4 separate regions of the Homo sapiens genome follow, and all the other regions are linked to region 1. The links come from fine-mapping of genetic effects on gene expression. A gene starts in region 1. Each other region holds a variant in brackets. All regions are shown on one strand. Distances are between the middles of the regions.

Region 1 (7,369 bases):
AAAATTGGTTCTCTCTTCATTCCTATCCAGCTTTTTCTCATTCATTTTCAACACTTTTAAAAAGAAGGAACTTTTAAATGCAGAAAAAGGAAAGAAACTATAAGACAGGAAGTTCAGCCTATGAATGAGAATTAGAGATGGGGTATATTTGGCAAATATTACTTATTGGGCTTCAGTACCACTGAATCTTTGTCTTTTCTGTAGCTATTTTCAGTTACAATCTCTATAACTGTCTACAATGAAGTTATTAATCATTTATAGGTGGTCATCTGGCTAGTTGGAAGGAAAAGCCAATGGTATTCTAGACTTTCTAGCACTGAATAATCTTCTTGTGAAACATATTGAGCTTGTCATAACAAAATCAGCTTAACTGCTGATTTTCTTTCATTCTGCAATGAACACACCATACTTTTCCCTGAAACTTTTTGATTGGATAGCTTCTATGTGGTCAAATGATGAGTCCATTTCCTCCTAAACAAACCACTGTAAGGTTTCAATACAAATCTCAAGTGCATTTTTCTGTTTCTTCTGGCAAATGCATAAGCACAACCAAATATTTAATAATTTATACAGTTTATATTTTCAAACAGGTTTTAGACAATATTCTTTTGTTTATAAACAACAACAGCAAAACAAATTCAAAGTCACTTAACCTTAATTTATAGGCAGTGTATTGGGGGTATCTCTTTTTTTTTTTTAAATTTGTTGTTTATTTTTTAATTAATTAATTAATTTTTTACATTTTATTATTATTATACTTTAAGTTTTAGGGTACATGTGCACAATGTGCAGGTTTGTTACATATGTATACATGTGCCATGTTGGTGTGCTGCACCCATTAACTCATCATTAGCATTAGGTATATCTCCTAAGGCTATCCCTCCCCCCTACCCCCACCCCACAACAGTCCCCGGAGTGTGATGTTCCCCTTCCTGTGTCCACGTGTTCTCATTGTTCGGTTCCCACCTATGAGTGAGAACATGCGGTGTTTGGTTTTTTATCCTTGCGATAGTTCGCTGAGAATGATGGTTTCCAGTTTCATCCATGTCCCTACAAAGGACATGAACTCATCATTTTTTATGGCTGTGTAGTATTCCATGGTGTATATGTGCCACATTTTCCTAATCCAAAACAGGAAACATAGGCAGTCCTCGAAAGATTCTGGAGCTGTTGAGTGGAAAGCCATCAGGAATTAGCATATCTCTCTTTCTGTCACTGTCTGTCTGTCTCTCTTCCTCTCTGTCTTTTTGTGTGTGTGTGCACGTGTGGACGTGTATGAGTGCTTTTCTCTGTTTCTCTATTCTCACATGTTGTTTCTCACCTCACCTTCATTTTGGTCATCCACTTTTGTCTTTTTCCTCCCTCAGCTGATCAGTTTTCATTACTTGACCACACTTATAGCCACATTCAATGAGTCCTCAACGGTGTCCATAGGTTATTGAAAACTGCGATGTAAAGTGAAACAACATGTAATGAAACCAGTTTTACTACAGACAAATTGATATCAACATGAGTTAAATTACTATACCATATTTCTGGTCACAAAAACATCACCAACTTCTAAAAAAAGACCAAAATACTTCTAATATTAAACAGTAAAATAAACTATACATACATTGAGTAAAGATTAATGAAAACAAGATAATTATTTACCTCCTTACTCCAGTTCAGGATCACAGGTGGCCAGATCCTACACCAGGAGCTCAGGGCATGAGGTGTAAACCAGCTCTCTTCAGGAAGCCATCCTACCGCAGGGCGCGCTCACATACCCAACCACAATCACTCAAGCAGGGCCTATGTAGACATGCCAATTCACCCAACACACAGAGAGTTGAGAAGTGGAGGGAAACGGGAGTACCCAGAGAAGACCCACATAGACATGGAAAGAACGTGCCAATTCCACATAGACATTGGCCTCTGCTGGAAATCGATTTTTTCCATCAGTGTTATAACAAAATAACGTTAAACAAAATGACCAAGGACCTGCTGTATGTTTTAGCCTCTGCTTCTGAGTGTACTTGTGTTCAGCTCAAGTAAACCCCAGAAGCAATCCTATCAATTTTACATTTCTGGAAAAGGGCTCACTCATTTAGTAAAACATGGGATGAGGAATTCATATGTTACATAAATATGTATTTTCCAGGAAGGTTACTCCAAACTGTGCAGACACTGTAATAGAGTAGTGCCAAGAAATGATGCACCTTTATATAATAAGACATAAGAGAAAGTATAATTATGTAGAATATTACCCTAGTTCTAATAACAGTAAACTGTTACATTCGACCATAATAGCTACTTTGGACCAAATGCTATTCTGAGTGCTCTTTCTCCAGATGCTCTTCCACGCTCCCAGCCACACACAGGCATGCACATACACTTTTGATTCTTTAAGTCTATGGGGTACTATTATTGTCATTTCTATTGTACAGAAAAATGAGGTTAAGAGGAGTTGAGTGTGCTGTTCAAGGTTACACTTCTGATAAATAGGTAGCAGATCTAGAATTACAGCCCAGGTGTTTTTAACCTAGGATTTGTGGACTTAATCACTGGGTTTTTCTGCCCCTTGAATTTGGTATTTTTTTTCACTCAAGCCCATCACTTTGTAAATTAACCTGACAAAAACTGAGTTATCTCCTTTTCCTAGAAAATTATCATTTGAAAATTTTCTCCTGTTAATCTTTTAATTTAAGCTATATTGTACTTATTAGCACTTGGCTTCATTTCTTCTTCCCTCTGACATTCTTATTATTTGTCTCAGTGATATTTACTGCATTTTACAAGTGCTGTCAGTCTCTATATTGCGGGGTACCATGCATCCATTGTTTTTAATGTTCAAAAATATAAAAAAGAATCTTATACCAATTTTTGATTAACTTCACGAGACATAGATTAAAACATTTTCATTACTTTTTGTTTTCCATACAGTTCTATAACTAATTTTTTTTTTTTTTTTTTTTTTTTTTGAGATGGAATCTTGCTCTGTCGCCCAGGCTGGAGTACAGAGGAGCTATCTTGGCTCACTGCAACCTCTGCCTCCTGGGCTCAAACGATTCTCCTGCCTCAGCCTCCCGAGTAGATGGGACTACAGGCGAACGCCACCACGCCCATCTAATGTTTTGTATTTTTAGTAGAGATGGGGTTTCACCATGTTGGCCAGGCTGGTCTTGAACTCCTGACCTCAGGTGATCCGCCTGCCTCGACCTCCCAAAGCACTGGGATTACAGGCGTGATATAACCAGCATTTAATTGATACATTCTTGCAGATCCAAGCCAGGTTACTGAGACTTGAAAAAAAATTCTTAAGTTGCTTTTAGTTTTTTCCATCTTTAGTCACATGGAGGGAAGTTGGGTTTTGGCACAAGTTTATTGTAAACTCATAAACTCATAAACAATCAAAAACTGAAGAAAAAAATAAGGCCCACGATACCTGAAATTGTATTTTGATGGAAGTCAGATAAGTAATGTTGTCCTCCAAGAAAGTATAAAAGTTTACTACATTTGTATAGATACTGCTAGAAAATAAATTCACAAAAGTCCTGCTATGATTTGATTCACATCAAATTACTTTGTTCCTGGTGATTTCACAAATAGATTGAGAAAACTGACATTTAATTTCTTGTCTGTTTTATTAGAATTTTTTAAGCGGAAACAAAAGACTTAACTGTACACTAAGAAATCTCTGGGTTTTCATTGTGCCTACATTATATTGCCCTTCCATACTTAAGCCTTAAGATAAAAATCACCTGTCTACCGTCCACCAAAAAGTAATATTTTATTTTTAATCCAGAAAATTGGGTGCCCTTGCTGCATTTGAAAGATGGCTACACACAAGTATTGTGTACCAAAAAGAAATTATTTCCAATATGGGTTAATATTTTTACTATGGAGATGATAAGCTTTAAAATTTTAAATGGTAATTTACCTTTCAAATTAAAAATAAAGAATTATATGAAATTAAAAAAATACTTGTTTATGCATTTGGACACCTCCTGTTTCCACCACCATGCCTAGGCCAACCTTGAACCTCCAAATTTGTGGGTGGAACCTTGGTGCCCACTTGGACCCCCAAACTATCCTCTTCAGGTAAAGGCTCTGTGAGAACCAAGTGCAAGGTGATGGATGGGAGACTCAAGGAATGAGACAGCCAGGGAAAAACTAGGACAGTGAGGTTTCATTTTCAGACATAAAAAGATGTAGAATCAGTTGAAAAAAGGACCCTGTTCCTCTGCAGAGGCAACCACACTTCTGAAGACCTTAGACCTGGCACGGTGGCTCACGCCTGTAATCCCAGCATTTTGGGAGACTGAGGGGGAAGATCGCTTGACGCCAGGAGTTCAAGGCTCCAGCGAGCTGTGACTGTGCCACTGCACTCCAGCCTGGGTGACAGAGTGAGACCTTGTCTCGAACAAAACAAAACAAAACAAAAACGAGGTTGGGGGAAGACATTAGAGCCCTCTGATCTTCTAATAACTCCCAGGTCAACCTTGGGAGTCGTGTGGCCATGTGCTAAAGCGTCCTGGGACAACTGTAAGAGCTCTGGGAATCACTGGCAAATACAGGTGACAAACCTCATGGTTTGGCTAGTGTCTAAATGCGGTCCTTTCCACTTCTGAAAACCTGTCACAGAGGCAGAAGAAAAGGCATCTACTGTTGCAACGTTAGTGTCTACTCCTCCTCCTGTCGTTCATCACTGAGATCTAAGGTGACAGGAGCATTTTCAGCGCCTTCGCCTTGGGGTGCAAACCAGTAGCGCCCATTACGCAGTTAGGAATCCGTCTGCAGATACAATCATGGGAAACTTCCCCTTCCAACGGAACCTTGTGAGGCTTCTTTTATGCGAGGTCCATCTGAGCAGTTTCTAGGATTACCAAGTTTTCATACAGCCTCTGTTAGAACAGCAAGACGCAGCGGGCGGAGAGCTACATCCCTGTAGCTTGACTCCTGGCTGTGCGACTGCACGGTGACATCCAAGGCGGCGGAGCCACTGCCGGTACACGCTGGGCTATGGGGACAGGTTGGGCGTGGCTTTCAGGTCAGCCAGCAGCCAAAATGGGAAGGGAGGAGTCGCAGACGGATTACGCGAAGGCTCTATCCCACGAAAGGACTGGGTGCACCCCAGAACGAGGACGCGGAGCTTCCCTGTTCCAAGCAGCAACAGACTGAGAAAATCCAAGAAAGGAGGCCCGAGGGGCTGCTGTGGCCCCATCCTCCTGGCACCCGCGGCCCGGGCTCTGCGACGCCTTTCGCCCCACCTGCGGAAGCAGCGATGCCTGGCGGAGCCTGCGTGCTGGTGATCGCGCTGATGTTCCTGGCCTGGGGGGAAGGTAAGCGAGGTAGGGCGCGCGGGGGTGGGCGCGCAGTGGCGCCGCGTGGGCGGTAGAGGGACTAGGCTAGACTTTTTGGACGACTTGGGGAGCGTCCCTGTGCGTTTTAAGGCAGCAAGCGATGTTTGTTCCTCACCCGCCTCCTCTCTGTCCCTCTGCTGTCTTTGAAAAGGTCAATTTCCAGCTTGAAAACTCTACACTTTTCTTTTGCGCACATGCGGTTGTTGCCTCCTCTTACTCTACGACCCTTGGTTCTGTTTTTGGTTGTTTCCTGCTGTTATCCTGCTCTTTGAGGTCATTGTAATTTACTGTAAGAAACTTTCGCCGGATCTGCAAGGTATGCTAGCCGCAAGTGGACCTGAATTCTCAGAACAGAGTTGAATTCCATACTGCACGAATTCCACCTCCAACCGGACCCTCAGAAATAATTCATTGGTGAACATTTTATCCCTACAATAAATCACCAAGTTAAGTTTTGTATATCCGTATTATACTGTATTATGGTTTTTGTATATATATGTTAGAATCAGTTTTGGCACTGTAAAAGAGATCTCTGTGGAGCGAATACTCCCCTCCTACTTCTTTAATCCATGACAAAGAACATTTAGTTTAAAATACAGTGAAGTTAAACCAAAACTACTTTCATTAGCCCTTTTTGCTTGTTTTTTGTGTTCATACAGATAGGAATATTAATGAAAGGTGACTTGTTCTTATATTGCAAGTTTCCTTACGTTTTTCAGAAAAAGTCTGATCTGTGTTCAACCATCTGCAGCTTGAAAAAACATTATGTACAACATTTATAGCAGTCCAGGGTATAGTTTTGTCTTATCATTTTTTGATCTTAACTCATTTTACTGATGTAAGTTTGCTTTGTATAAGGGGAATACAAACACTATCCTATACAAAACTTAAAAATAAAATACTAAAATCAAATTTATTATTTTCTGCAATGATATTTTTTCTGGTCCTTCTTTGGTTTGCTTACAGCGTTACTAAATCTTTATGAATAACTTTAAAAAATACATGTAATAACATATATCTGTTCATTACAGTTAGATAAATATTTCCAGGAAAAAAATGACCAATGTTTATAAAGGAAGATGATTTCATGTTTACTATAGACCGCATAACCCTTTTTTGCCTCTATATAATAGCTTTGTAATCTCTCTGCTGAAGACAAATATTACCCATTACCAGGTTTTAAGTTCATAACATTGGTAACATTGTCAAGTTCTTTATGTTTAATGGAGTAAAACTAGAAGACGAGGTAAATGGAAAATGCATTTATTGAGACTTCTTTTTTTCAAATAGCTTTATTAAGATGTTCATATACCATACAAATCACTCAAAGTGTGCGACTCTATGGTTTTTCATTTTCACAGATATGTGTATATTCAGAGTATATTTACAGGTATATGCAGCGATGACCACAGTCAATTTTAGAACATATTTATCAATCAGAAAGAAATACTATACCCTGGGCTATCATGCCGCATGCCGGCTATCACCCTCCCTTTCTCCCCAGCGATAAGGAATTACTAATCTACTTTCTGTCTCATTGCATTTGCCTATTCTGGATATTTTATGTAAACTGAATCATATAATAGGTTGTCTTTTGTGACTGGCTTACTTCATCTAGCACAGTATTATCAAGGTTCATTCATCTTGTAGCATGTACCAGTATTTCATTCCTTTTTAAGATAGAATAATGTTCCATTGTGTGGATATACTATATTTTGTATGTACATTCATTTGTTGATGAACATTTGAGTTGTTTCCACCTTTTGACTATTATAAATAATGTTGCTATAAAGCACCGAGGTACAAGTTTTGTTTGGATGTATGTTTTCATTTCTCCGAGATATATGCCTAGGAGTGGAAATACCGGGTCATAGGGTAACTCTGTGATTAACTACTTAAGGAACAGCCAGGATGTTTTCCAAAGTGGCTGTGCTGTTTTGTATTTCTGCAACAGTGTGTAAAGCTTCTAACTTCTTCATGTTTCCATCAACACTTTTTATTAACTGAGATTTGGATTCTACCTA
Region 2 (7,631 bases), 110 kb after region 1:
TCCTAGAGGAAGGTCATGTAGCAGTTAAACTCTACCATTTTGCCTCTTAGTGTGGATACTTGAGCCCACTTACCCAACTCCTAAGATCTTACCAGGAAGCTGCTGCTCACCAGGTTCAGGTGTTTTCTATTGTGAGACTGCCCTTTCCTGGCACCAGGTGCGACCAATTATTATTTTAGAAAGACAGTTGAACAAGCTGTCTGATCACCTGATGGCCCCCTGACATTCCTGTCAGGGGAAGGCCTCTCTTGCCCTGCACATGTCTGCCTAGCTACCTACTCTAACAGTTTCTGTTTTAGGAAACAGAATCTTCTGCTTTTAAAACAGAATTCTAAATTCTAGATTCAGTAATCCAGAACTTAGATTCTAGATTACTCAGTTTATTTAGGGTGGGCTCCATTAATGAATAGGGCAAACAAGCATTTTCTATGCCTGGACTCCACATGGATAACTCTGAAAAGGAAGAAAACCTTCTTTACATGAGGGCCAAAATTACTTTTTATTTAGCTTTCTTTATTCCTTTAGGGAGGAATAGTAACTATGCTAAAGGTTGACAGATTCAATTTTTTAAATCAATTAGTCTCTTAAGCTTTTTAATTGCCTTTTGTAAACAAGTCTTTTAAAAGATGCAATAAAAATTGTACTGAAATCTTTCTAGAGGCTTCCACACATCAATAGGAATCCCTGGGTAAGCCTAATTTGGTACCCCTCATTTTTAAGTGCACTTTTTAAAGTACAGTATTCTTCATCTGGGAGGTTCTATATAATGGCCATTGTAATTCTCCATTATCTTAAAAAAGATTTTGCCTTTAAAAATTTGAGGCTACCAGTGCCTAATATTTATACGTATAAAAAGCAGGCATAGCTGGAAAGTGGAGTGGTCAGTTCTTTAGAAATTAAGGATCTTGTTTTTATTCTGGCCCTTGGGTCAATCAGAGCAGAGATAAAATCCTATGATGAAAAGACCAGAGCATTGTGTATTCTAATACTTTCACAGAGTACCTCATTGCGCAAAGTTTTCTTGAAGCTGATGGGTGACCTACATCAACTAACCCATTTTTGTGACCATGGGAGTCTTATTTTGGTGGTGACTGCTCCAATACCTCTTAGGTGCCTATTCCATGCCTGTTACTGGTAATTAGTCAGGTATGAGCGTGGCAGGAGACGGTTCCACCCACCCCCACCCCTATCCCCACCAGGAACGTCAGGCAATCATCAGGTGACCATTCAGCAGCTATCACAGTAGCTCTCTAAAAATGATAATTGGCAGCCAGTGCCAGGGAGAAGCAACTTCCTGATGGTTGACAGTTTTCAAACTAAAGTGATAATTAATTGCAGGCAGCAGGGAGAAGCAATTTCCCAAACAGATAAAAACACTTGACATTGGTAATCAGCTTCCAATAAAATCTCAGGAATTGGCCAAGTGAGCTCAGGCATGCGCATTAAGAGACAAAATAGCAGAGTATGGCTTTCTGGGGGCATTCCACCAGAAAAGGGAAAACCCAGGTGGGCATGCATATAACTTCCTAAACACACTGTGCATGCTCACCTCCCAAGCATAAGGAGGGCACTGCACATGTGGGCAGCTCACCCTTCAGAAAGAATGTAGGGAAAGGGATGCAAGAGGTCAGAAGTGGGCCAGCACATAAAAGTCTTAGGATCAAGTTTAAATGGGGAACTTGCCTTCACACTGCCCACTTGAATCTCTTCCAAATGTACTTTCCTTTCTTTCCTGCTCTAAAGCTTTTTAATAAACTTGCACTCCTGCTCTGAAAGTTGCCTCAGTCTCTTTTTCTGCCTTATGCCCCTTCAGTTGAATTCTTTCTTCTGATGAAGCAAGAATTGAGGTTGCTCCAGACCTGCACAAATTTGCTGCCACTAGCATGCCCACCAGTCAAGTTTGTGTCTTTGGCTCTGAGATTGCCTTGACCAACATAGCTAATAATTTTTCTCTACCTAAGCATGCAAGAAAAAAACACATTTCTGAAAACTTTCAAAAGCCAAAGTTCATACTTCCGGCGGTAATTGCCATTTACTGCTAGTTTCTGCCTGACTTAGTCAAACACCTGAGGCCTCCCTACAGAACCCAATCCTGTTTCTGTTGTGACTTTCACTCTTATCGGTGACTTGTCAACCACACACCCCAAGGTTGGTACTCTCTTTTACAGCACAATCTAAGCCTGGATTCAAAGGCCAAAAAGATCTGGGTTGGGGGAACACTCAATGCAAGAAGAACAGAGTCTGATCCAAAATGAAGTTGCAGCATGTAGCGGTCCATAAGGAAGAAAGGGGATCCATGAAGGGGTCAATGGAGGCTCTCCTGTGTTCCTCAATAAGTCTCATAAATTTTCAGCAGCATTTTGGGTCCCCTTCTTCTGGTAACCAGATACTGTCAAAAGACAAAATTACAATAAACTTAGTTTAAATATCCTAATTGGCTTTTATTTGCAATTTTAGAATCAGACAACACATTATTCGATAAAATAAAATGAATGTCCTGATGAACTGAGCAAAGTTATTTGGCTTTATAGACAGAAAAGTGCTAAAGATAGCAGAAACAGAGAACAAAAAGACAATTGGTGTTTTGAAATTGCTTTCCTTGTAAAGGTTACTTCCTTATCATGCTGGCTAAAACTGGCCTGTTTGGAGATTCTGCTATGATGGAAATAAAAATATTTTACCCCAAAATAGATTTCTTTGACATATTTTGAGATGGCTGTTCAGAGAGAGAGCAAACTGACATAACCCTGAAGGGTTATCTTTTGTAGGAGAGATTTGCATCTGTAGAATATCTACATTAGTGAGCCCAGGTTTTCTCTGAGGCCTCTCCTTGTCTGGATCAAGGAAAAATTAACTGAGAGTTCAACACCTTTAAAGGTTTTTAAAAGCATTTACTATCTATTCTCTCTGAGGGCTGCTATCCTCAGAGAGGGTAGGTTTCATTTACATAGCAAGACTATCTTTGTTAGACAGGCCTCCTCTTCTCCCCCTCTCATATCCTGCTTTACCACCTGTATTAGTCCATTTGCATGCTGCTGTTAAAGACATACCCGAGACTGGGAAGAAAAAGATTTTTAATCATCTTACAGTTCCACGTGACTGGGGAGGCCTCACAATAATGGCAGAC[A/G]GCAAAGAGGAGCAAGTCACGTCTTACATGGATAGCAGCAGGCAAAGAGAAAGAGAGCTTGTGCAGGAAAGCTCCCATTTTTAAAACCATCAGATCTTGTGAGATTTATCCACTATCATGAGAATAGCATGGGAAAGACCCACCCTCATAATTCAATTATCTCCCACCAAGTCCTTCCCACAACACATGGGAATTATGGAAGCTACAAGATGAGATTTGGGTGGGGACATAGAGCCAAACTGTATCACCACCTTAACCTGTTTTGCGAGCAATCCAAGCCCTTATTCTTTCTGTAACCTCAAGATGTTATAAAAACATCTGAACACCATTCCAGGGTAGGGTAATTACATTGTAGTTCTCCCTTGTATGATTGCTAACAAATCTGTATGCTTTTTCTTCAATTTGTTTTTTGTAAGTTGACTTTTCAGTGAAACTTCAGAGGGTGAAGGGAAGGTTTTCCCCTGTCCCCTGCAGCTATAATCTCTCTCCTGATTTCTTGAAAGATCTGATAAACAACTTAGTTTTGGCTTGGTGGCTTTGAACTTCGGCATAAATAACTTCATTTTGGCATAAGTAACTTCATTTTGGTTTGGCCTGTTGGGCGTAGTGCAGAAGCCCAGTTCAAATAATAGCTTTCTATAAATTTTACTTAACAATCATTTTGATGAGAAATGGCAAATAACTAGGTCAATTTTTCCAACTGTAGGGACCAAGGGGAACCCTTATAACCACCCAACAGGTTCACTTTGCCCAGTGCCTAGACAGAGCTGATTTATCAAGACAGGGGAATTGTAATGGAGAAAGAGTAGTTCACGCAGAGCTGGCTGTGTGGGAGACCAGAGTTTTATTACTATTCAAATTGGTCTCCCCAAGCACTAGGGAATCAGAGTTTTTAAGGATAATTTGGCGGGTAGGGGCTCAGGAAGTGGGGCATGCCAACTGCTCAGGCTGGAGATAGAATTATAGGGGTCGAAGTGAGTTTTCCTTGCTGTCTTCTGTCCCAGGGTGGGATCATAGAACTGGATGAACTACATTACCCTTCTGGGTGGTGTCAGGTGATCCATCAAGTGCAGGGTCTGCAAAATATCTCAAGCACTGATCTTAGGATTTACAATAGTGATGTTGTTCCCAGGGGCAATTTGGGGATGTTCAGACTGTTGTAGCTGGAGGCTGCGTGACCCCTAAACCTTAATTTCTAATCTTGTAGCTAATTTATTAGTCCTACAAAGGCAGACTGGTCCTCAGACAAGAAGGTTTTTTTTTTTTTTTTTTTTTTTTTTTTTTTTTTTAAAGAAAGGGCTAGTATCATTTTTGTTTCAGAGTTAAAGGTTAGTTCAGCCTATGCCCAGGAACGAACAAGGACAGCTTAAAGGTTAGAAGCAAGATGGAGTTGGTTAGGTCTGATCTCTTTCATTGTCATAATTTCCTCCGTTATAATTTTTGTAAAGATGGCTTCACCCTTGGCCCTCTGGAGGTTTGCTGAAAAAAACCAACTTGCAAAGGGCAGATTAATAATAAAAAAAAAGGGCATATAAATTTATGTAATATGTATGCATAGGAGACTTCAGAATGAAGATTTTACCCCCAGTGTGGTACAGATGCTTATGCATCATCTTGAGGTTGCAGAAGGAATGTGGGCTCAGAACATGACCCAAAACAGGTTATGCTGGTAAATCAGGTCTTAGTGGCAAGACAGATTCTGGGAGGGAGGAAACAGGAAGCTTAGCTAGTAAAGGTGGCGTTGTTATATAGATGAAGCTTTGCTTCACAGGCAGCAGCCCTTGGAGAGAATAGATGGTAAGAGTCTTTTTCAGACTTTTGAATGTTTCAGACTCAGTTAATCTTTCTCAGTTAATCTGAATAAGAGACGGGCTGGCTGCATTAATGTAGATTCTCTGCACATCTACAAATGCAAATTTCCCCCACAGAAGACAGCTTTGCAGGGCCACTTAAAAATATGCCAAATTAATATATTTTGGGGTAAAATTTTTTATTTCCTTCACACTCCAAAATCCACTGTACCCTGCTCCCCATTCTTGAGCTTTCCTTCTGACCTCACTGTGCTTTTAAATAAATAAAATGACCAGAAATAAAATCATAAATGCTGATGTGACAATTGTTTAATAGTCATGTTTCTAGTTCTTAGGTTGAAGGTGTCTTAAATTATCATCAATATTTCATCACATATAAAACATAGTTCAGCTATTAAATTGTAGAACATTTAAATCGGGAAAGAAAAAAAAATCCAGTTAAGATCTGGACTCTAACAATCCAAGAGACTAAAAAGTTTTAGTACCTATGTTTTGGAGTTGGTAAATTAAGCTTGTCTTAGAAGTTTTAAATTTAAGGAGAAACTTTAAATTCAGGGTATTATTGGCTACAGCACCAATGTATTTCTTTTGAAAAGATAGTGTTTAAATGAAGCTTTGCTTTTGTGGGGGCCATGGCCTTTGGCCCCCTGAAGTTTCACTGAATATCACTAACATGGGGCAGATTGATTAAATAATGGGGGAGGTCAGAGAGGCCTTGAGGTTTCTTCAGTTCAACATGCCAAAACATCATATTTTGGGGTATTGGTTTTGTAACTATCCAACGGGTTCTCCTTGCCCACTGCCTAGACACAGCTGATTTATCAAGACCAGAAAATTGCAATAGAGAATGAGTTTAATTCACTCAGAGCTAGCTGTACTGAAGGCCAAATTAGTTTTATTACTCAAATTTAGGAGGACAAAAATCGCCTAGTGCCCATCAAGCAGACCATCCAAAGTCAAACTCCTTATCTGAAAAATTTAGAAGTAATTAGACTTCCCTATTATCTAAAGCCAGCAGCTGGTACCAGGCTTCTTTCTCAAGAATTTATAAGTAACCAGAATTTCTATTCATCTCTGGAATGCATGTATGTTGAGACTCATAATGCAACCCTTGCTGACATTAGTGTTACAGGATTCTTTCAGTGCTGCTTTTGCCAGCTGGAAATCTCTGTGGCCACCATGACCTCTGCCTTGGGCCTTGCTTGGACCCACCAGGCTCACTCTGCCCACTCAGCCTAGCAGGCTGCACTTGGTTTGTTCCCCGCCCCAGATCCCACACCTGCCATGGGATCCACACTCAGCCTGCAGCTGGAACGGTCATACCACCACCAGCTTCCACCTTGGGCACCAGCATCTGGATGAGGGGAATGCAGTAGCAACTGAAATCTCAAAGATGCCAGCAACTGCACAGCCCTGAGGAATGCTACAGATCTTGCCCAGGGACTCCCAAGCTCCAAGGTCCAAGGCCCCAAGAAGTGTTACAGCTGTCTCTCATTCCTGCAGCTTGGCAAACGGGCATGTCACAGCACATTCAGTCCCACTGCTCACAGCTCAGTAAAGGGGGACATGTCACAGCTCATTTGGATTTGCCACTGCAGGTTGGAGAATGAGGGCATGTGGCACTCAGCGGTTTTTTCACTCCCGTAGCTCAGCAAGCAGGAGTGTATGTTACAGCTCTTTTCGCACCCACTGTTCAGTGGATTCTAGGTTCTTGTCCCGTGATGAAGAGGAATGAAGTACGTGGACACTGGAGAGTGAGCAAGGCAGATAATTTTATTGAGTGACAGAAAAGCTCTCGACATGAGAGGGGCCCAGAAGTGGGTAGCCCTCTGTGTGAGAAGGGAACAAAAAGTGGGTTGCCACCTGTGAGGCTGAGTCCAAGGCTTTTATGAGAAAGTGCATGCTGATTGATCCATGGGTGGGCCTGGAAGAAGCAGCATTCAATTGGCTAAAGGGCATCAAGGAAGTCCTCACTCTGGTTGTGAACTCTACCTGGAACAGGAAGCTCAGTTTTCAGGCTTTAGACTGTCCTTGGCTCTAAGGTCAGGTTTCACTGGGGACACGACCCTTTCTGGCTAGGAATTTGACTGTTTACTGTCACTATCAATCCCCCCTCTGAAGAGGTACGTCTAACTGACATTATTACAGGGATGGTGACAGGTCTAACTGCTTCATGCTGACAGGGGCATTGTTTTGGGAAAACAGCAGTTAGATGTCTCTCAGAGGTCTACCTATGGGTTCCCGGTAAAAAGAGCCATCATCTGAGGCTCTATTTCCATGACCATTTGGAGTTTGATGGTCTCTAGGTAAGAAGAAACAAATTTTAAAAGGAGGTTAAGTATGCATGGATCAAATATGAGTATTATACTAATCATTCTGAAAACAATGTTTTGATCAGAGCTGTTTCACCCTGGTGAAAGTAAGTCTTTAATGGGGGTAGGGAAGCTAAACTTCAGAAAAGAGATAGCTGTTTAGGGGAGTAGATAATGCCATGGGCTTTCAGGATTAAGGGATTTTTGGCAAAGATGCCTTATGGTGAGGAATAGAATGAAGGCAAGAACAGCAAGCATAGGTGAGACTATAAAGAGGATATCCATAAAATGTTAGTGACACTTATGTTTTGTGATCTTTAGCTTGAGGTCTCCAATTTCTTCACACTGGTGCTTCGGGTGCTCCTCTGGGTCAACAGAGGA
Region 3 (7,631 bases), 87 kb after region 1:
ATAGATACAATGTATATAAAGTAGATTCTATTATCAAACTTTAATCTTCCTCACCAAGGAATTGGTTATAATCCTCGATAATATGGTCAAGCGATATTGTTAGGGTCTAGTTTGGTTTCGTCTAAGATCTCAAGATAATCATCTGTACTTCCTTCAGTGTTTTGTTTTAATGCTGCCCAAGCTAAGAGGTTCCTTTCTTTGTTGAGGGCTCTGATTACTAAATGAAAGGAAATTCTTACGGCTTGTGTATGTGTCTTTAGGCACCAAGACCTGTCAATTATTTTTTGTGGACAACTTTGATGCTTCCTCCTACATTAGTTAATGGAGATGGTGACTGTGTGATACTTCATCTCCCTGATCTGTCTGCCTATTACATCAGCATTCTCTGATGATGCATTCTCACTGCTGGCTGATATTTTCTGAGGACTGTAGGAGGGGAGGATATTAGTTTTCAACCCTCTTCTTGTGAAAATAATCAATTATTCCTTGGGTTTTGACCTGAGATCTATCTCCCCATATCAAAGAGTCAAGCCATTTCCAGTGTAATGCCATAAAATACCCCGGCTGCAGCATTACAGATGAAGTAAATTAAACATTACAGACAAATATATTCTGACCACTCATTTCTAATAGTGATTGGCCTACATAGAAGACTTGAAGGATACTGGCTGGTTCAATCCAGGAAAATATTGCAAGGCAGCAACAGAGTTTGGTTTAACATGTGGGTACTTACATAAATCACAGGCAAATATTTTGAAAAATATACTTTTATTTTATTTTCATTTCTATAAAAGAAAAAATAACTAGAGGAAATGGAATTTTGTGCTACCAGAACAAAACCTAAATTGCTCACTTTGAGGGTTGTCTCTGGGCTGTCTGCCTGGCTCTGTGTGTGGAGCAAGGGTGAGATTTTTCTAGATCCATAGGGCTGAACCAAGAGGAGCAATGAACTAGAGAGGACAGAAGGTAGTTTCCAGTTAATGATCAAGTCCTGATGCATAATATGTTCAAAAAAACTTCCAGTCTTAGATTTGCACTAGAAAGGAAGAGGGTGACAAGGAATTTGTTGTTTTTTCTTCTCAAATGAGAGAACAGAGATCTCAGACAGAGTAATACCTGTCAGCACTGCTTGAGTGACTTATCTTCCAGCCACCGTTAAACCGAACAAGGAAATTTATATATCTCATTGTTTTGAGCACTATTGTTGTCTTCCAAGTGGGTAAATATTGAGTGTCCACCAAAATGCCAAAATTCATTTCTAACCTTTGTGGGTAGGCAGATTACAGGCTCTGCCAGTACCTGTTAGTAAGCAGCAGTGAGACAACTTGCTAGAAAAAGAATGTTAGATTTCCCCACCATCAGGGAATACTAAAATGATGAGCATGGTTAAAAATAAATGAGTAACCAGTTTTTAGCTTCTAATAGAACACTCATGCTGAAAATACACATGTAAGATTTTAACTAATTAGGCCTCAAGCTCTTTTTAAAAGCCACATTGCAATTAATTAAAATGACTGCTACTTATTTTTTAAAAAAACAAGGTAAATTTTTTATTATACCTACCAAACTGTCAGAGAAAGTAAACATGCTTAAACTCCCATATTACAGTTTTTGTTCTGAAATAGATAAACTATACAATCAACTTTATTTCTTTTTTCTCAAATTTATTTTTAATTGACATAAAAGTATATGTATTTGCCATGTATAACACGATTTGTAGTATATATATGTTGTGAAATGGTTAAATCTAGCTAACTAGTGAATGCATTACTTCATATAGTTGTATTTATGGTGAGAACACATAACATCCACCTTCTTAGCTTTTTTCTTATTTTTAAGTTGCTCATTTGAGTTGAAGTTGGCCTGAATACTTCAGCTAATATTGAACAATAATTGAATTAGATTAACAAATACAAATTAAAATCAAGATGTGTAACCTTTGAGGACCAAACTTGAGTTATTTCCCCTTTAAGAGCAGTGCTATAAAAGGAGACCGATCAGTGGAAATTTAGAAATAGCCATTTAAGAGAGACAATGCTTAGAGTAAAATTCTATCTCCAAAAACATTTATTGTAGCATGGTTTTTAATATTAAAATTTAAAAATAAATTATATGTGATAAATTAACAATTATAAAATAATAAAATGTTAAGTGATCATTAATAGAAAAATAGTTATATCATTATATTTCAAGCCATGAGATTTCTATATAGCCAATAAAACAATCATTAATGTAGAGCTATATCTTATATTGTATGAAGATGACTATGTTAGATGAAAAGATGAGAGAAATATTTCCAGACAATAAATATAGTATACTCCAATTTAAAAATGCATATGTTTTCATATGATGGGGCTCAGAAAACAGTATTTTAAAATGAAGGCCTCCGCAGCAGCCTCAGAGCAAAAGTTTTTTTCTGACCTTTTCCTGTTCCCCTGTCTCTCAGTCGTGTTCTCCCTGGAGGCTAGCCATAAAAACTAGAATCTCTCTTCCCCAAGGCAGGTCACAGAAATCAGAGCCCCTTTTCTCCAAAGCTAGTCATAAAACCTAATAATATTACTCTATTTTTCCCTTGCCTTTCTGTGTAAAAACTGGCCATAAAGAAATTGTCTGACATACCTTGTTTGACTGTAGATCATGAGACCCCCATTCTAGAGAGGGCTCTTCCTCACACCAAGGAGGGAATGCATGCTCAGAAGAATCTAGACAGCCAGAGTTTCCCCACTCAGCCCATTATCATTATATCTTGCCCTTTTTGTCCGATCATGTTTCTACATGGCTATCCATAACCTAAACATAAACATTGACAATTTCTTCTGTATCCTTGAGTCTTCTGAAAGCTCCCATGTATACATGTTAAATAAATTTGTATGCTTTTTCTTCTATAAATCTGCCTTTTGTGAGTTGATTTTTCAGAGAATCTTCCAAGAGCCTTTGGCCCCCACACATATATGTGAATACACATAAGTTTTTAGTATTATAGAAAATGTATAAAAAGACTGATACCAAATAATTAAGATTTGTTACCTCAGGGGAGTGGGATTGGGAGGTAAGGGGTGATTTAAGTAGATTTTATATATTACTTTATATGTATTTGTACTACTTAACATTTTTATAGTTATCTTAGTTTCATAATGTATCTTTTGCAGAATCTTCAATTAGCCTTAATGCAGCTTTTTGGAAATACCAATTTAGGGACTTTAAGAATAATATGAGTTGAAAATTAAAGAATCATTGCATTATTTTTCTTAATTCAAGAGGGGCAATAAAATTAATAAAAAAAGTTATGTGTATAAAATTTTAGTTGTATTTATAGTTATGCTCTTTTCAGAGTAAAAGATTCTGACATTTCATTATTGCAGATGTATTCAAGTTGCAAATTATGTATTTAAATTAAGGGAAATGGTCTACAGTCCCACCAGTGTTATTGTAAGATTAAAATTAATTACGCAGAATTTTTGTATCAGGCCAAACTGTACAGGTAATCAGTCATAAGCTAATGTTATTAGCTTGATTCATGTTATCAAACTGTATTTCTGATAACACCAGACAAGGGGGTGGTGGGGCAGAGAGATACTACATATCAAAATGATAAAACCAAGTTCTTTTGTTTGCATTAGTTTAAATATTTACAGGTTACATTTATGGCAGAGTTTAGACTTGAATAATTCAAGCAAAAAGCTCACATTTGCCTAAATTTGTGGGAGCAAATATACCATAAAATAATGTTTCCTACTTGTAAGTTTGTAGAGTGTCTTTTATGTACAAATTCTGAAACTTTTAAAGGACTGAGTTTGAGAGTTCAAATTGAATTAATGAACATTTTATTTTAAAGATAGAATTAAAATGCACTGTTCAGTTCATATAGGTAATTTGAGGTGCACAGGGAATGATGCAACTTTCCCAACAACTCACAAATCAGATGAAATGCAATGGTTAATTTTCAGTAAAAACTGGAGTTATCGAGAGGTCAGTCTCATATAGCTAGAGATTTGTTTTATTTTAGAAGATGGTGACTACCTTATTTTTTGAAAAAATTATGTGATTTTTATATATACAAAAGAAAAGAGTACTATATCTGTAAACTTATAAAGCATAACAAAATGGACACCCACAATTCAATCATCTAATTCAGAAATATGCCAAAGCCAATACAATTGTACTGATGACTTCTTTGCTTTTATTATAATCCTGCTGTATTTTATGTTAATCACCTGTGCTAGGCAACCTCTAAGATGGTCCTAAATGACCCCCACTTTCCAGTATTGACACCCTTATGTAATCTACTTCCCTACAGAGTGAACTAGACTTGTTAGAAGTGATTCACTTCTAACAAATACAATGAAACAAAAGTAGTGAATGCCACTGCTGATATTAGGTTATAAAATAA[T/C]TGTAGCTTTCGTCTCTCTCTCTTTCTTCCTCTCTCTCTCTCCTTCTCACTTTCACTCCCTCTTTCTCTTGCTTGCTCTACGGAAAACCAGTTGCCATGATGTAAGTTTGAAGTTGTCCTATAAAAGGCCCACAAGGCAAGGGACTGAGGGAGCCTTCTAGCCAACAGGCAGGAGAAATGAGGCCCTCAGTCTAAACAGCCCTGAGAGAATAAAATCGGGTCAACAACCACATGAGTAACTTTCTAGTGGATCATACCCAGGTCTTATCTTAGAAAAGACCACAGCCGACACCCTCACTGCAAGCTCATGAGAGATCTTGAGCCAGAGGCACTCAGTTAAACCAATCCTGAGTTCTTGACCCAGAGGAATTGTGAGATAATAAATGTGTGTTGTTCTAAGCTACTACCTTCTGCAGTAATTTGTTCATCAGCAGTACATAACCAATACATTATCCTTGCCTTTTATAGTTCTCTTAAAGGATGCACAATGTATTAATTTCTGTTATATTGGAACTTTAAATTGTGTCACTAATTCTTTTAATTTTTGTGGGTACATAGTAGATGTATATGTTTATAGGGTACATGAGAGACTTATACAGGTTTCATAATGTGTAATAATCATATCAGGGTAAATAGGGTATCCATCACCTCAAGTTTTTATCCTTTCTTTGTGTTATAAACAATCCAATTATATTCTTTTAGTTATTTTTAAATGCATGATAAATTGTTGACTGTACTCTGTTGTGCTATCAAATACTAGATCTTATTCATACTATCTAACTATAGTTTTGTACTCATAAACATCCCTGCCTACCCCCCACCCCCATTACCTTCCCCAGTTTCTGGTAACCATCATTCTACTCTCTGTCTCAATAAGTTTAATTGTTTTGAATTTTAGCTCCTACAAATAAGTGAGAACATGCAACGTTTATCTTTCTGTGCCTGGCTTATTTCACTTAACATAATGACCTCCAGTTCCATCCACGTTGTTGCAAATGATAGGGTCTCATTTGTTAAGACTGAATAGTACTCCATTGTGTACATGTGCCATATTTTCTTCATTCATCTGTTAATGGAGACTTAGGTTGCTTCTTAATCTTGGCTATCGTGAACAGTGTTACAATAATAAACATAGGAATGGTTATTCTGCTTAAACTGTTCTCAATAGTGGTTGTATTAATTTACATTCCTACCAACAGTATACAAAGGTTCCTTTTTCTTCACCTTGTCATCAGCATTCATTATCGACTGTCTTTTGGATAAAAGGCGTTTTAACTGGGGTGAGATGATATCTCATTGTAGTTTTGATTTGCATTTCTCTGATGCTCGATGATGCTGATCACATTTTCATACACCTGTTTGCCAATAGCTTTGACTATTCTGGGTCTATTGTGGTCCCATATAAATTTTAGAATTATTTTTTCTATTTTTTAAGAATGCCATTGGTATTTTGATGGGGATTGCATTGAATCTATAACTTGTTTGTGGTAGTAGGGACATTTTAACAGTATTGATTCTTCTAATCCATGGAATATCTTTCCCCTTTTTTGGTGTTCTCTTTGATTTTGTTCATCGGTGTTTTATAGTTTTCAATATAGAGCGCTTTCACTTCTTTGGTTAAGTTTATTTCTAGGTATTTTATTTATAACATTATAAATATGACTACTTTCTTAATTTCTATTTCAGATTGTTCACTGTTGGCATATAGAGGTACTACAGATTTTTATGTTAATTTTTGTATCCTGCAACATTACTGAATTTGTTTAACAGTTCTAATAGTATTTTTTTTAATGGAGTCTTTGGGTTTAAAATATAAGATCATATTATCTGCAAAAAATAATTTGACTTCTTTCTAATTTGCATGCTCTTTCTTTCTCTTGTTGGATTCCTCTGGTTAGGACTTCTTTAATTCTTTATCCTGCAAATTTTTTGCTTGCCTAAGCTTGTAGTAATTTAAAATATGTTGAACTATGTCTTTATTATTTTATATTTGTCTACTTTTCCCTGTAGTTTTATCAAATTTTTCTTTCTATGCTTGAGGCCATTAAATTGGGTGCATACAAGTTTATAGTATGCTAGCTAAGCCTCTTAGACAGCATTGCATAGTGGTTAAGTTCAAGGACCCTGGAGCCAGATTGCTTTCTGGATTGAGTCCAGATTTCTCTCCTCATTGACTGTGTGACTGAGCAAATTGCTTAAGCTTCCTTCATCCATTGCCTTGTTTGAAAAGATGGAAAGGTAAATAGAAATAATACCTACCTAATAAAATTGAAATGAGAACTAAATAAGTTAATACTTATAAGCCTGCTTGTGTGCCTACAACAATGGTTGGCATGCATTTAACATTGTATAGCTGTTTCTAAATCAATAAATGTTCTGACCTCTTTATTCCTAATAATACTTTTGCTTAAAGGTTATTTTGATTGATATTGCTATAGCTACCCTGTTTTTTAAATAAAATATTTTTCTAATCTTTTTCTACTGTACTTTCAGCCTGTCTATCTTAGGTTTTATGTGTACCACATAAATTCAATTTCAACCTGAAATTCCTTTGTAAATACTAGGGTGGAAAGATATAATACCTATCCTTACCAATCATAAAAGTCACAGCCAATATTCCTATAACCAGACAGGTTAACAAGAGAAAAGCATAATAACTTTATTTAATCAAAGTTTTACATGACACAGGAGACTTCAGAAATGAAGACCCAAAGACCCAAGGACAACTGTCTATTTTTATATTTAGGTTCCATGAAAAATGAACAGGCATGTAGAAATGTAACTGGATAAAAGGGTTTCATCTAATATAAAAGGGTATAATCTAATGGTAACTGAAGGGGGAAACTCAACAAGTCCTGTCTGTTCAGATTCTTAAGCTCTCTGTGTAGCATTTCTTCTGAGTATTGGACAGCACTCCTCTGAAATGAGGATCTTCAAGGGAGAAATGAGAAGTGTGAATGACCCTTCTGGGTTTTATGGTTTGTGTGTGGGGAGAAGAGTTCTAGTTTCAATGATTCACTTTGAAGAAAAGGAAGTCTGATTTCTATGAATTGCTCAGGTGAATGAAGATGGGCTGGAGATAGGAGGATGGGAGAAGGTCAGAGAGACCTTCCTTCTGAGGTCCTTCTGAAGCCTTTCTGTTCAATGTGCTTAGCACACCAACACACCTTACTTTGGGTTATTGTATTCTGAGCATTCTATATTTCAACTGAAAATAATTAAATTATTGTGGTTAAAAATA
Region 4 (7,631 bases), 320 kb after region 1:
TAGGAATGGGGGGATGCACTTCCTAATGGTGAAAGCTCAGCGTCTAGGGGTGCCTCAGGCCCCATGGCCTTATCTTGCATTAGGATCCTAAGGCTTCTTGTAACTCTGCTGCTAAGGGAGTTGTACTCAGGGTACTTCATTCTTCCAGGTAGGCACCCCACTTCACTAAAGTGGATATGTGCCATCCCAGTCCGGGGGGCCATGAATGCACCCATCCTGCTATTGGGTAAGTTGTCCACACGATGATGACTGTAACCCATCCTGACATGCTCTTATGAGCCTGAAAGGCAGTGTATGCAGTTACTAACTGCTTCTTTATTAATGAACACCAGAGCTCAGCTCCCTTCCATATAGCTGGGACTAAAAGCTTACTGGTTCTTCCAAGTACTCCATGCACTGCCATAGGCTCTAACCAATACTATCTGTAATTTCATGTACATCAAGTTTAAATGGGAGCCCCTGGTTAACTACCTGCAGGGCTTGAGCCTGCTGAATAGCCTGCTTGGCTATTGGAAAAGGCTGCCTCAGTCTTATCCAAATCTAAGGCAAGAGGGGCGTTGCCACTTTTAAATCTGCAAGAGAATCAGAAGTTAACATAACATCATCAACAAGACTATGACATAGAGTGGGGCTATGCATATTGCCCTGTAGCAACACTGTGAAAGTCCATTGTCACCCTCCAATGAAGGCAAACTATTCCTGGTTCTCTGGACAAGAATCCCAGTTCCATTGTTAAGCAGTCCAGCAAGTCTGTGACAGATGGTACAGCTGCCAAGCCGTGTAAAACATCCCCAGCCAGAATGTCCTCAGGCATGGGAGAGACATACACAGTTCATGAGCGGAAAACCAAGCAGCAGATACCAAGATGCAAAGATACAGGTTTCGCTTTCACTGACCAGTCTTCATAACCATCAATAACTGCAGCTCTGCCCAGAAACTTATCCGGGTTCAGAGTCCAGTAGATTGCCAAGTCCACATATGGTCTTTGGTCATCCAGTGCCCCCCTAAGCCAGGCATCTTGGTCAGTCTCTTATCAAACAGAAAAGGCTTTACACTTCCACCTAACTGCAGCAGGCAGTCTGTGAACTGGAATGCTTGGGCAGGACTGGGTTGCGCAGCAATGTCCTTCTCCCATGTGACTTACACTAAGTCTGCACATGACTGCCGAGATTACTTGCTTAACTCCTGCAACTCAGTGGGGGTATAAGCACTATAAGAGCTGTGTTCCACCACTGTGGGGGGGCCCTGGGCTCTCCCCTGGGGTCCCATTGGCTGCTCATGTTCTGCCTTCTGATGGATCACAGGGTGAGCCCGCAGCAGAGGAGCCTCCTCCCTGCCTGGCATCCTGCAGGAACTGGGCATGCACCTCCCGCAGCACAGTTACAAATGCCCGTCTGACTCTGCTGGCAAAGGCATGTTCCTCATTGGTGCTGTGCACTTCCAGGTACTTCAGTGCCCTCTTCATACTCACAGGAGACCCATCCACTGCCTCCCATGTTTCCATCAGATCCCATCCTCCTCGCAGCATGGCTGCCACTGGGTACCACAGTCCATGCTGCGGCCACAGAGCCAACCCAGGAGCCCTCAGGGGCTGAAGACCCACTCACCTTATCCTGCTGACAATGCCAATTGTCAGGTTCCAGCCCCAGCTGAGGTCCAAGGGGAGTGGGTGGATAGCTGAAAGAACACTCCGGGGGCGCCATAGGCAGGTGAAATGTAGTTTTATTTAGCAGGTCTCTCAGTAGCAGCTTACTCACATTAGCTCTCTAACACTGTCCACCTTTATCTCAGCTGTCTGCTCTGGCTCTGCAGCTCCTGCCCTTCCGGCAGCTGCATAGCAGGCTCTCCCTTGCCTTCAGGGTCAGCAGCTTAACTCTTTCTCTCTCTGGGCACCAGCACGAGCCATGCAATAGCTGTCCTCTGTCCGTCTGCAAGACAGACAGCTCTGATTCTCTCTCTCTCTTTCTCTGGGTGCCAGCGCCATGTCAAGCCATGCCCAAGATCCTGTACAGTGTCAGCAGGGCAGTTATACCTTCTACAGACAATAGTGGCTGAGAGCCAAGTATGAGCTTAAACAAACAGGTTACATAACAAATGGAGTATGTGCCTGCACCCTAAACTCGCTAAGTAATGCAGGCCTGGATGTCTGCCTTGGCCTAATTCTTGACCAAAGCACATCCATGTACCTTACAAATTGTTTGTCTTCTAACAACTGATAACCTAGAAAAACTTAGGCAAGCACCAAACAACAGAATAGTAACTCAGTAAAGGAGGTGTGGCATGCCCACAAACACAGAACCAGAAGGCCAGGCTGAGTGGATGTGAATTCCTTTTTGTCATTTGTTAGCTACTTTATATTGGGTAGATTTCTTAAATTCTGTGACATAGTTTTTTAATCTATAAAAATAAATAATAGGGCTGGTTGCGGTGGCTCACGCCTGTAATCCTAGCACTTTGGGAAGCTGAGGTGGGCAGATCACAAGGCCGGGAGTTCGAGACCAGCCTGGCTAACCTGGTGAAACCCCGTCTCTACTAAAAATACAAAAAAATAGCCTGGTGTGGTGGTGGGCACCCGGTACTCAAGAGGCTGAGGCAGGAGAATCGCTTGAACCTGGGAGGCAGAGGTTTCAGTGAGTCAAGATCGCGCCATTGCACACCAACCCAGGTGACAGAGCAAGACTCCATCTTGAAAAATAAATAAATTAAATAAATAAATAATAATAGTATCATATACCTCACAGAGTAGAAAAGAGGATTCAATGAGTTAATATATCCATAAAGTGCACTCAATGAATGTATGTATTTTAGTATTTCTAAAATAATAATAGCTCACAAAACAAATGCCAAATCCTAATCTGTGTCTAACAGTTACAGAAATTGTACCAGTCTCAATCATTTTCACATAAAGCAGAAATGAAGGTTAATACAATTTCCTTCCCATGGTTATCGTTTGTGTGACCCTTAGCACACTGGCTTGAAAATTCTAAAAAAACACAAACACAGTACACTGGAATCTAAACGGACAAACTATTTTCAGAAGTATTGGCTATAGAGTGAACCATAGCAAAGGGGACCAGGAATACCTTTTGCTGATCAGGATATTTAATCCTGCACATTGGAAGAAAATAAGAGCTGTCAGCAAGCACACACACCCCATTCTAGAAAGAAACCATCCCCGACAGACTTAATGGGTCATGTGTTCTGGTCAGGTCGTAGGGTTCATGGTTCCCTCACTCATCCCTCACAGAAGGGGCCTAAATGGGAACCCTTAATGCTAAGGGGGTTCTGTGCAATTCCTGAACCTATGGTTGGAGGTGCTCCTGATGTTTTGCTGGTTTAAATTACCTTCTTTGAGTTTGGAACAAATTATTCTGAAGAGTTACATTCCAGTACCCTGTCTACTTTTCTATTTCTGTGTTTCCTGTTTGTTCCTCTTACCACTCTGGAGATACAGGCCACAGTGAGATTGTGTTCACAGTGAGTATCATGGTAAAGAAAAAGGTGGAATATGGTTCCCTAGTCCTCTCCCCACCCTGCCCCTGTAGACCTCCTGCCAACACCCACACTGTGCAGAAAGCTCTGAGGATAAAAGTTCATGGTAAAATCTAGAGATTGTTTTAAAAATGTCTCTGAAATGACTAAGTTGAGAGTTATGTTTTCCTATATTAATGGAACTTTGAAATGGCAAATGATTTATATTGAAATGTATCTTTTTCTACCATATTGTGTGTTTTGTAAGTTATAACCTCTATGCAGTCAATAATGTTATACATTTCAAAAATAACTGACCCTCAAATTCCAATATTGATAATAGCTCTGCATCAATCAATACTAGTCTCTCAGACAAATTAGTGTTTACATTGACCAGAAAAAGTCATTATATGCATATTAGCTAGGTACCACAACATAAATTGAATTAATTTAAGGAGTGAAAAATATACAGCTTTTTGTATTATTTCATATTTGATACTTCCAGCCTTAATTCTTTACCACATTTTTAATGTTAACAAATTATCCCAATGAGCAGCTATCTGCTCATTAAGTGAAATAAAATATATAAAATTTTAGAACAATGTCTGGCTCATAAAGGTACTCATTAAATATTATAATCTGACCTCCTTCAATTTTTATCTTTCAAGACTAAGAAATTAAGAATTTCATCATCTCCATTATATATCTACATATAGATAGAAATGCTAGAAAATGTGGCATTCACATTAAAGACCAAATGCTGCCTCATTGATGTGGCTGATTTATTCTCAGAATGGTGAGTGTGGATGGAGATTACAAATTGGGGAGTACTGCAATGTTTTACAAGAACACTTGATAAAAATGTCACTCTTTCTCTGCCCCACTCCAAAGCACTGTCCATATAACAGGATTTTTATGTTCAAGACCAGGAGTTTGCCTATTCCTTTTTTTGTTCTTATTTCTTTTTAATTTCTCTGTTCCCACCATCTTTACCAATCCCTGTACACATGTGTGTGTGCTGATACATACACATAGTCCAATATAGTATGTCCATGTCTATTCAGTACCAAAATCTTTATTATCACATGAATAAATGCTGCGATATCAACTGTATGTGTTAAGTTTTAAGATTATTACTTCACATTAATCCATGTTTAATAGATAAGGTTCTATAAAATTGCTGATATTTAGCCATATTACACCTTCAGTAAAGATCAGCCTGATATCTTGGTCTTATCCAAGGTATCTGGTCATTGCTCTGCCAGTCAGCAGCACTCTACGTGTGAACATATCATATAATATAATGAGATGCCATTATAATTCTTGGCTAGTCAGGATGTTGCTTCTTAGTTC[A/T]TTTGATTTGACTGTATGCGTGGTTCTGTTCCACTAGTCCACATTGCTTGCTGGGGTTCCCTTTAACTGCTCTTAAAAACACTCTTCCTTTTTTTTACTGTGACTAAAGATACCTAGACTTATCTTTTTCTTCATTTTAAACTTTTACAAAAAAAAAACAAAAAACAAAAACACAGAAGGAAACTTGACTTAAAATAACTTTTGTTTTATACCCAGCAAAAAGTATCTGAGATAAGGAAATGTTAAGGAGGTCTGTACATGCTTAGAGTGGGAGAGGAGAGAAAATGCTTAGAGTGTACATGCTTACAGAAGGCTTTTTTTATTCTGACCCCTCATCCTCAACCAGCTCCCATGTAGCTCTCCTACTTTGTAGCAAGGCCAGAGCAGAGCTCCAGTCCCAGTGCTAATACTGCGATTAACCCCCAAGCCAAACCCAGCTTTTATATTTGCTTCCAACTCGTAGCTTTTGACCCATTTCAGGATTTTGTTTGCCTGTTTTTGTGGAGAGTATTTTTTTCCCTCAATTTCTGAAAATCAAGCAAAAATATAAAAAGCACGTTATATATTAGATTCAGTTATTTTGTCTTTTTTTCTTTTTTATGGTCTATAAGGTGTACAACGTGATTTTTTGAATACACATATACTTAGTAAAATGATTACTATAGTTGACCAAATTAACGAATCTCTCTCCTCACATAGTTACCTTTGTGTGTGTGTGTGTGGTAAGAGCACCTAGTATCTACTTTGTTAGCAAATTGCCAGTACACAAAATGATATTATTAACTATCGTCATCGTGCTGTGTATGAAATCTCCAGATACATCCTGCGTAACTGCAACTTTGTACCCTTTGACCAACATCTCCCCATTCCTGCACTTCTGTAGCCAGCATTCTATATATCACTTCTATGTATTTGGATTTTTAAGAGTCTCATACCTAATACAATACATATTACAGTATCTGAGTGTCCAAAAATGTTTATTAGGTGAATGTGTACTTGACTACCTAACATTTTTTTCACATTATAAGTTATATGACATTTTGAGAGTTGGGTTTATTTTACTTACCATCGGAAATATTGTTTCATTGGATAGCTCATTTAGTTCAGTTTACACAATTGTTATTGAATATATTTTATGTGCTAGTTTCTTTTGCAGAAAACACATGCCTGCTTGCAAGATTGGTCCTTGACTAGCATCTGGGAACTTTAATGGTAAACAGTTCCCTACAATGATATAAAACTTTAACTACATGAAAAAAGTGGCTTGGTATGCCTAGCTGTGTAAAATGTGGTTTAACACCTGGTTTTCCTTCTAGGAGTCTAGAGTTTTGCTAAAGACTGGGCAGAGAGTATTTATGTGACCAAACCCCAGTATAAACCTTAGACACTGAATTTCTGATGAGTTTCCCTGGTAGACAACACTTCACATGTGTTGTCACAATTCTGTGTTGGAGGTAAAGAGCATATTCTGAATATTTCACAGGGAAAGAACTCTTGGAATCTTGTGCCTGTTTTTTTTTTTTTTTTTTTTTTTTTTTTTTTTTTCTGGTCTTTGCCCCATGCACCCTTTGTCTTTGCTGATTTAGCTTTGTATCCTTTCACTGTAATAAATCATAGCCAGGAAAGTAACTACATGCTAAGTCCTGTGATCCCTCCTTGTGGGTCACTGAACCTGGAGTGGACTTGGGGACGTGTGACAGAGCTGTACATCAGACAAACTGAACATATAAGAAAGAGCCTTTCCCATGAGGAGCTTATAGTCTTGTAGAATAGAGGGAGTAGGAAGTGTGTAAGGGGCTTTTAGATACTCAAATAGATAATTTCAACATCATTTGGTTGATAATAACCAAATCATGCAAAGAGTGCTATGGGAACACCAAGAAGAGACACTCTTTCTAGGAGTTCGGGACAGGTTTTAAAAATGAGAAATACTTTGCCAGGTACAGAAAGGTAGGCAATACATGCCGAACAAAGAGACCTGAATGTAAAATAAAATAATATCAGTGATAAGATTGATAGTAATGGCCACAAGAATAACAATAGCAAACACGAAATGCTTACTAAGTACCAAGAATTTTTTAAGCCCTTCTATATATTAACTCATTTGATTCTCATAGCAATGCTGTGAAGTAGGTAATATTATTATGTGTTTTTAGAAAATGAGGAAATGAGGGTACGGAGAGATTAGGTATATTGTACATGTTCATATAGCTTGAATATATTACTCTGCAGCTTGAACCCAGAAAATCCAGTTGTTACTCTGTGCTAGCTTTCTAAAGAAGGGAAGCAGGATATATTTGTTTAATTATTTTATTTTTTAATTCCAAACTTCTGACATAGAAAATGCTTTTTAAATTATAACACATGCGAGTTGGAAATTTCCAGAATGAAATATGCTACTATTATCTTGGTGGGAAAATAAGACTTCCAAATATAAAATAATAGAAAGCAATATAAAATGTCATATTCGAATATGTAATATAGTCTAAAAGAGGCAATGTATATATTAAGCATTATTTCCTTTATCCATGTGGAGACTTAATGATATCTTCACTTTACCTAAATCCATGATAAAAACATGATAACACATAAATGAATAATTGCCTCACTTATTGAATAAAATCTACACTCTCCTTGGATAATCTTTAATTTGGAGCTTCTCTGCTATTACATCTGACTTAATATTTTCAGTGGTGAATGAATTATTTTTTTTATCTTTGGTGTTCACATTTATACAAACACCAAAGGTACAAAACCAGAGTATTTATATATATTGGTATATATGTCTGAAAACATATATATAAACA

Which allele goes with the higher level. Positions count from the first base shown, and alleles are read on the strand shown. Sizes are in standard deviations (SD) of each study's normalised expression. Not every link is listed here.
As copies of G replace A in region 2, the expression in atrial appendage of the gene that starts at base 5,118 in region 1 goes down (moderate effect, 0.56 SD a copy in GTEx).

The links. PIP is the estimated chance that this variant, and not a neighbour inherited with it, causes the effect. A credible set is the group of variants that fine-mapping cannot tell apart.
Region 2: its variant is the best candidate, but not a certain one, in a credible set for the expression of VWDE in atrial appendage (GTEx, PIP 0.76).
Region 3: its variant is the best candidate, but not a certain one, in a credible set for the expression of VWDE in lung (TOPMed, PIP 0.87).
Region 4: its variant is the best candidate, but not a certain one, in a credible set for the expression of VWDE in whole blood (TOPMed, PIP 0.65).

What each region holds. Positions count from the first base shown.
Region 1 is chr7:12,401,614-12,408,982 of GRCh38, reverse strand. VWDE (von Willebrand factor D and EGF domains) reads left to right here and starts at 5,118. Exons shown (of 29, transcript NM_001135924.3): 1 at 5,118-5,324. The coding sequence starts at 5,267. LOC105375154 (a long non-coding RNA gene) reads right to left here and starts at 2,845. Exons shown (of 3, transcript XR_927035.4): 1 at 1,654-2,845; 2 at 1,327-1,445; 3 at 557-1,167. RefSeq lists silencers at 4,196-4,385, 5,323-5,372, 5,266-5,560 and enhancers at 4,697-5,262, 5,263-5,830.
Region 2 is chr7:12,295,089-12,302,719 of GRCh38, reverse strand. No RefSeq gene overlaps it. Among named protein-coding and RNA genes, the nearest start is that of TMEM106B, 88 kb to the right of the region's middle. The variant A/G (reference allele first, on the strand shown) is at 3,128.
Region 3 is chr7:12,314,154-12,321,784 of GRCh38, reverse strand. No RefSeq gene overlaps it. Among named protein-coding and RNA genes, the nearest start is that of VWDE, 86 kb to the left of the region's middle. The variant T/C (reference allele first, on the strand shown) is at 4,391.
Region 4 is chr7:12,084,566-12,092,196 of GRCh38, reverse strand. The region is part of intron 1 of LOC124901589 (a long non-coding RNA gene); the gene reads left to right. Among named protein-coding and RNA genes, the nearest start is that of TMEM106B, 120 kb to the left of the region's middle. The variant A/T (reference allele first, on the strand shown) is at 4,825.